2 linked regions of the Homo sapiens genome follow. The protein of the gene in region 1 interacts with the protein of each later gene in a biochemical or structural test. Each region holds a gene or a part of one and is shown in the gene's direction. Other genes may lie near its edges.

What was found.
Region 2: the proteins of BAG2 (region 1) and PINK1 form a complex in vitro, tested with the Homo sapiens proteins (2 studies listed by BioGRID).

Annotation. Positions count from the first base shown.
Region 1 is NC_000006.12:57,178,582-57,182,616, forward strand, and holds part of BAG2 (BAG family molecular chaperone regulator 2), read left to right. Parts: intron 1-3,450; coding exon 3,451-3,560; intron 3,561-4,035. UniProt on the Homo sapiens protein: Co-chaperone for HSP70 and HSC70 chaperone proteins. Acts as a nucleotide-exchange factor (NEF) promoting the release of ADP from the HSP70 and HSC70 proteins thereby triggering client/substrate protein release.
Region 2 is NC_000001.11:20,643,458-20,646,957, forward strand, and holds part of PINK1 (serine/threonine-protein kinase PINK1, mitochondrial precursor), read left to right. Parts: intron 1-1,032; coding exon 1,033-1,215; intron 1,216-2,102; coding exon 2,103-2,266; intron 2,267-3,500. UniProt on the Homo sapiens protein: Serine/threonine-protein kinase which acts as a sensor of mitochondrial damage and protects against mitochondrial dysfunction during cellular stress.

The DNA of each region.
Region 1 (4,035 bases):
AGGGAATAGGACATGAAAAGCCCATGTTGCCAAATAAACCCTGAGATCTTTACATTTTGAAGAATGACATTTTACCCTTGCATGAAATGAAAAAGGTATACATAAAAATGTATATAAGAAGTTCTATAAATGATGAAATCTGGTTTTCACAGGGATAATGCCCTGGTAATTTCTATTATGTATTAAAAAAAGCCTTGTGGGATGGGGGTGGGGGAGGGTCCCTAAAACACAAACTTTAGCAGTTCCACCTAACTATTTGGTCTCATTTAATGATAAAATATTTTCGTCATATGACAGGCTTATTATATTTTTTCTAGAATGTCTTTTTTATCTATTTTGTTAAGAACATGAACTTACTGCTGTAACTCATAAATGAAACCTTCCTTTTCAGAATAGCATTGTTCTCTCTTATCATCTTACAATTGAATACAAACCGAAAAGGTGTTGAAAAATTAATCTCTTCTTTCAGCATCTTCTCATTTATCAATCACATGATTCACCTGTGTCATTTGTCTAAATATTGGAGTCATGGTTTGTGCTTTTAGCATAAATATTTAGTGCCAACTCCGTCTCTTTCCTATGTTCTGGGCCCTAGTTTATCTTTCTGAGAGATTGCTAATGTAAAATGTTTAAGTAAATACTGAATGGTCCTGGAATAGGGCCTGATACTTGCATTACTATTAGTTAGTAGAATATTTGTATTTTGATTGTGTTCTCTAGCCAAATTTGTCACATGCGATTCTTCCCAGTTCTTTGCTTTTACTGGCTCTTATAAACACACTTTGACATATATTTAATATCTTGAAGAATAAAGATATCCTGTGATTTTACAGCCTGTCAGTACTATTTTGGGGTATAACAGGTGGGTAACCGAAGGGGAAAAGGCATGTGTGTGCTTAGGGCAGGGAGAGGATCCTTTTATGGAATTGAACGTGCTAAAACATTGGTGAAGTTGTTCTTTCTGTGCACACTTAAGACAGCAGTTAGGATTAGATCTTTCATGAACTTGTATTTCTAAGACCATCCAAATACTGGGAATAGGTCTGTCACTTTCATTTTGCAAAAGTTGGCATCTTAGTTACTGTAATTCATAATAACAACGTTCCCTGGAAGTATAGAACATGTTAAATATACAATATATATTTCTTTATTTTGCCCTTATTCCACAGCTTAGTTTTTTAGTGACTGGGTATATTCATGTGTGTGTATAGTGTGAGTGCATGTGTGTGCAATTGAGTGAAGTGGGAAAGTAGTGCTTCTATAGTTTGATCAGGGCTTTACACAAAAAAGCCACAGAGATTTTCCCTTAAATTTGGGAAAAGACAAAGATACCCCCATGATTGCCACTGTTTAATACAGTACTGAAGGACCTTTTCTTAAAAAAAAAAAAGTAATAGGATTGGGAAGGAAGAAATAAAAACTGCAGATGATATGGATATGATTATTAACCTAGAAGAACCAACAGAATCAACAGACTGAACACTAAAATGAATACATGTAAATCAAGGTTGCCAGTGACAAGATAAACCTACAAAAACAGCACTTCTCAAACCAGTAAAAATCAAGTAGAAAATACAAATTCACAATAGCAGCAATATCCACGAAGACTACTATGAAGAATACATGGGAACTCTATAGATCTGAATAAATGAAGAGACATATATCATGCCTTTAAACAGAGAGATGTTATAAAGATGTCTAATTTCTCTTGTTTTTTGAGAAACACAATAAACTTACCCTAGAATTTATATGGAAAAGTTGGAGAAGTAAAAGTCCATAAATAGCTAAGTTATCTTTAAAGAAGATTGAGGGACCTGCTCTATCAAATATTAAAGTGTAGTACAAGGCTAGTGCTATTAAAAAAAAAAACCCAAAACTTGGCACTGGTATAAGAACAGTTAAATACACTAATGCATGGCATAGAGATTTTAGAGATAAATAGCGAATATACATTCGCTAGGGGAAAGATGGATTGCTTGGTAAATAATGTTGGGGAAAATGGCTATTTGGAAGAAAAAAACAAAACATTCTTACCTAACTGCATGCAGGGGTTGATGCTAGGTGGATTAAAGACATAAATATAAGGAAGGTAGAACTATAAAGTTAATAAGAGAAAATATAGGAAAATAGGACCAAAGGGTGGGGGAAGACCTTAGGTCAAAACTTCAAAAGCATACGCCATAAGGCAAAAAAAAAAAAAAAATTGATCGCATCAAAATAAGAGTCTCTCTTTAGTGCAAGACATCCCAGACGTGGTTCATATATGAGAGGATGAGAGATGGTTGCAATGTCTGTAACCAACAAGAATCTCTTGAGTATACAAATCAACAAGGGAACAGTAACTCCTGTTTAAAAATAGAAAAGCAAAATAGGAAAAGTCTATGAATAGGCTAACAAGGATACAAAGAGATGTCTGAAATTATTAGGAAAACACAAGTTAACACTGACATATCAGTGTATTTCTGTCACACTGGCAGCAAATAGAAAGTTGGAAAATGCAGAATGTTGGTAGGGATATGGGGACCCCTGTGCTTTGCTGTGGAGAGTGGATAGGTACAGGTGTTCTGCAGAATAGTCATAATACTAAGTCAAAAGCAGAGTACACATACCCTTTGTCTTAGCAGTTCTGTCCTGGTATATGTCCTAAGGAAATCCTCACCAAGGTCCAAAGGGGAGATGTATTCATAGAAGTGTTATTTGTAGTAATGAGAAGCTGGTAGACAACCTAAGTGTCCATCTCTGGGAGAGTGGAGAGGGAAAATCAGGTAGGTATACACATGGAGTATTATACAGCAATTAGCAGCAACTGATTAGAAGTACACATAGGGGGCTGGGTGTGGTGGCTCACACCTGTAATCCCAGCACTTTGGGAGGCTGCGGTGGGCAGATCACTTGAGGCCAGCAGTTTGAGACCAGCCTGGCCAACATGGTGAAACCCCAGGAGTTTGAGACCAGCCTGGCCAACATGGTGAAACCCCGTCTCTACTAAAACTACAGAAATTAGCCGGGCCTGGAGGCTGAGGCACGAGAATCACTTGAAAGCGGGAGGTGGAGGCTGCGGTGAGATTGTGCCACTGTGCTCCAACCTGGGTGACAAAGCAAGACTGTCTCAAAAACAAAAAACAAACAAAAATCTAGCAACCTGGATGCTAAGTGAAAAAATAAAAACAGAATGAGATATAAATTCAAAATATACAAATAATACAGATCTTGTAAAAAACAAATAGTATTAATTAGATAAACACGAAAGAATGATTGCCTTATGAGCTGGGAGGAAAATGGGAGAAAGGCAAGTGTATAGAAAAATGAAAGAATTTTAAAGCAGAAATGAAGAATTTTTGAAAAGTTTGGTGATCTTTAAACTTGATTTGGGTTGAATGAGAGATAAAGAAAATTAATAGGAAGAACATCCTGCATACAATAACCGTTTTGTTTTCCCAATTTCTATAGGGTTGAAGCTTTGAGAGAAGCAGCAACTGCTGTTGAGCAAGAGAAAGAAATCCTTCTGGAAATGATCCACAGTATCCAAAATAGCCAGGACATGAGGCAGATCAGTGACGGTGAGAGCCATCTCCACAGAAGGGGCTCATCTTTTACACTCCTTTAAAGAGTTTATGATAAGTGTGGGTCAATTTTTGCTTGACTTTTGGTATGCGTACACCAGGCCACAGCATTTAATGTGAGCCACAGAGAGCAGCTGCAGCTGTCAGTTCATTACAGCAGCCACTTACTCAGAGATTTCTTCCAGCATGCTCTCTACCCCAAGCCCCTGGCTAGGAGAGATAGGAAAAAGCCTGCAAGCTCAGAAAAGCTGGCCCCAAGCAGTAAGGCCATGTGTTTTATCCCAGGTTCACAGTCCTAACTTCAGTTCCTCACAAGTTACTGGACTGCAAGAGATTAAAAAAGCAGAGGAAGAGGGTGAGAGAGTGGAAGCAGAGAAGTAGAGACCAAAAAAAAAAAAAAAAAAAAGATGAATTGAGGTACAACATAAAGAGAAGGGACAAAATGCAGAGAAAATGAGGAAACTTGTAGGAC
Region 2 (3,500 bases), on another chromosome or scaffold:
TCTATGCCAACTACTGTACTAGACTTGGAATAATGGAGAAAATTCAGGCACAGTCCTTGCTCTTAGGGAGCTCACATGATTACTCATTGATGAATATCTCTCTCCCCTGATAGACTGCAAATCCATGAGGACAGGGACTCTGTCTTGTTCTGTGCCATAGTTCCACAGCATTCCAGCATGATGTCTGGTACTCAGCATGCAAACAGTGCGTATTGGTTGAATGAATAATAGTACAGCTAATAGCAGCTGAGAGCTTCCTCTGTGCTAGACACGATTCTAGGTGCCTTCCACACTTTGACAACCTTATGCAGCGTGTTAACACTGCATTCCCCTTGCACCCTGGAGATTGAGCCCAGAGAAGATAAGGACAGAGGGGACACATTCCAAGATAGATCCCCCAGTGGATGCCTGAAGCCACAGATAGTAACAAACCCTATATATACTGTGTTTTTTCCTATACACACATACCTATGGTAAAGTTTAATTTATAAATTAGGCACAGTAAAAAATTAAAGATAACTAATAAAATAGAATAATTATGACAATATACTGTAATAAAAGTTATGTGAATGTGGTCTCTCTCTCTCTCCTCTCTCTAAATATCTTCTTGTACTCACCTATTCTCAAACTGTAGATAACTGAAATTGCAGAAAGCAAAACTGTGGATAAGGTTGGGGCTACTGCAACTCAGCCAAGGACTTACAGTGGCAGACCTGGAATGCAAACCCAGGCAGTCTGATACCAGGGTTTCTCCACCTGTGTTCTGCCACATGGGATGGATAGGATGGATGGGTGTACGGATGGACGGACGGACAGACGGATGGACAAATGGATTGAAGGATGGGTAGGGGAGTCATCAGATGTGTTCTCCAACACCATGTACAGTACCTGGCACATAGCAAATCTATGATAAACATTTGATAGTAAGTGAATAATGAATGTCAGTGCCAGTGTTGGTGTGGCCTTAGGTTATTCTTTCCAGGTGTTGTATCTGATGCTGGCCTCATATGTTTGTCTCACTTGGCTGACTAGAAAATCCAAGAGAGGTCCCAAGCAACTAGCCCCTCACCCCAACATCATCCGGGTTCTCCGCGCCTTCACCTCTTCCGTGCCGCTGCTGCCAGGGGCCCTGGTCGACTACCCTGATGTGCTGCCCTCACGCCTCCACCCTGAAGGCCTGGGCCATGGCCGGACGCTGTTCCTCGTTATGAAGAAGTAAGTGACAGCAGCGCGGCAGGGCCTGGAGCTGATACATCTCCCAAGGGGAGCTGGTTCCTGCCCTCCATGTGCACCTTGATCAGGGGGTTTTGGAGAACAGGGTCATCACCCTTCCGGAGAAGAAAGCCATGCAAAGGGAACATATCTGCCCTGGAGAGCATTTTCCCTGTAGGACGATTTTTCATGGAAACAAACTCTCATCTTCATCCAGAACATACTTGTCACCTAGTCCTTTTGGTCCATTTGACTGTTAACCTTTTCTGTGGCTGGACTTATCTGTTTTTAACATAAAAACCGTTCTCCTTCCTCACCCTCTGTATCCCCTAACTTTGCTATAGTGGGTATTTTATTTTAAGGAAATAATTATCTGCACCATTACTTTGAATATAGGGAGCCCCAACTCTTACTTCCTAATTTGAGGATGGTGAGTGGGAGGGAACAGAAAGGATGCTGGGGAAAAGTGGGAATCAAAGTGCTCCTGGAAGGGGAAGAGGAACGGCCTAACCCTAACAGTGATTAAGGTTATTAGGAGGCCGGGAATGGTGGCTGACGCCTGTAATCCCAGCACTTTGGAAGGCGGAGGTGGGTAGATCACTTGAGGTCAGGAGTTTGAGACCAGCCTGGCCAACATGATGAAACCCTGTATCTACTAAACATACAAAAATTAGCCTGGTGTGGTGGCGGGCACCTATAATCCCAGCTACTCGGGAGGCTGAGGTAGGAGAATTGCTTGAACCTGGAAGGTGGAGGTTGCAGTGAGCCAAGATCGTGCTACTGCACTCCAGCTTGGCGACAGAGTGAGACTCCATCTCAAAAAAAAAAAAAAAAACGTATTGGGAGTCGTCGATGTGTGGTAGCCAGAGGCCCTCTCCCCTCTCCGCCAGCTATCCCTGTACCCTGCGCCAGTACCTTTGTGTGAACACACCCAGCCCCCGCCTCGCCGCCATGATGCTGCTGCAGCTGCTGGAAGGCGTGGACCATCTGGTTCAACAGGGCATCGCGCACAGAGACCTGAAATCCGACAACATCCTTGTGGAGCTGGACCCAGGTAGGAACCTGCTGCACCATCAGAGCTCTCCAGGGGCACTAGAGGGTGGGTCAGGAGCATTTAGGACTGACTCTTCAGGTCCTCTCTGGTTTTGTGTTCTAAGTCATGTCTTTATTTAGCTCCGCACACAAGAGGTTAGCAATCTCTCCCTTAGAACGGGGTTTTTTTTTCTCTCTTTGCAGAGAGACAGCACTTCCCAAGTTCCTTTCTCTAGCCCACTTAAAGAACAAGGACCTCAGTGCTGCAAGTTTTCCTAGGTAAATAAAGAGGCCCGGCACAGTGGCTGACACCTGTAATCCCAACACTTTGGGAGGCTTGCTTGAGGATTGCTTGAGGCCAGCAGTTTGAGACCAGCCTGGGAAACAGAGTGAGATCCCTTCTCTACAAAAAAAAAATATGTTTTAAATTAGCCGGAAAAAAAGTTAGCCAGGCATGGTGGCATGCACCTGTAGCCCCAGCTACTTGGGAGGCTGAGGTCGGAGGATCACTTGAGCCTAGGAGTTAAGAGTCTGCAATGAGCTATGAATGTGCCACTGTACTCCAGCCTGGGCAGCAGAGTGAGATCCTATCTCAAAAAAATAATAAAAAATAATAAAGTAAAAGAGAAGTAGACTTTAGCTCATTATAAAAAATAACTTTCGGCCGGGGGTAGTGGCTCACGCCTGTAATCCCAGCACTTTGAGAGGCTGAGGCGGGCAGATCATGAGGTCAAGAGATCGAGACCATCCTGGCCAACATGGTGAAACCCCATCTCTACTAAAAATACAAAAATTAGCTGGGCATGGTGGCGGGCGCCTGTAATCTCAGCTACTTGGGAAGCTGAGGCAGGAGAATTGCTTGAACCCGGGAGGCGGAGGTTGTAGTGAGCCGAGATTGTGCCACTGCATTCCAGCCTGGCGACAGAGTGAGAGTCCATCTCAAAATAAATTAATTAATTAATTAAATTTTTCAAACAATGAAAGCTGTCCAAATGTAAGCCCAGTTGCCTCTGGAAATGAGTTGCCTACCACTGGAAGCATTCAAGTAGAAGCTGAATGGCCACTTGCCTAGGAAAATTGTAAGGAGATTCATACATCTGATAAATTTTTGAACTAGAAGATTTAAAATAATTGACTAGAGGAACTGGCTTTTATTATTTCTTTATTTATTTACTTATTTATTTATTTATTTATTTGAGACAGAATCTTGCTTTGTTGCCCAGGCTGGAGTGCAGTGGCGCCATCTCAGCTCACTG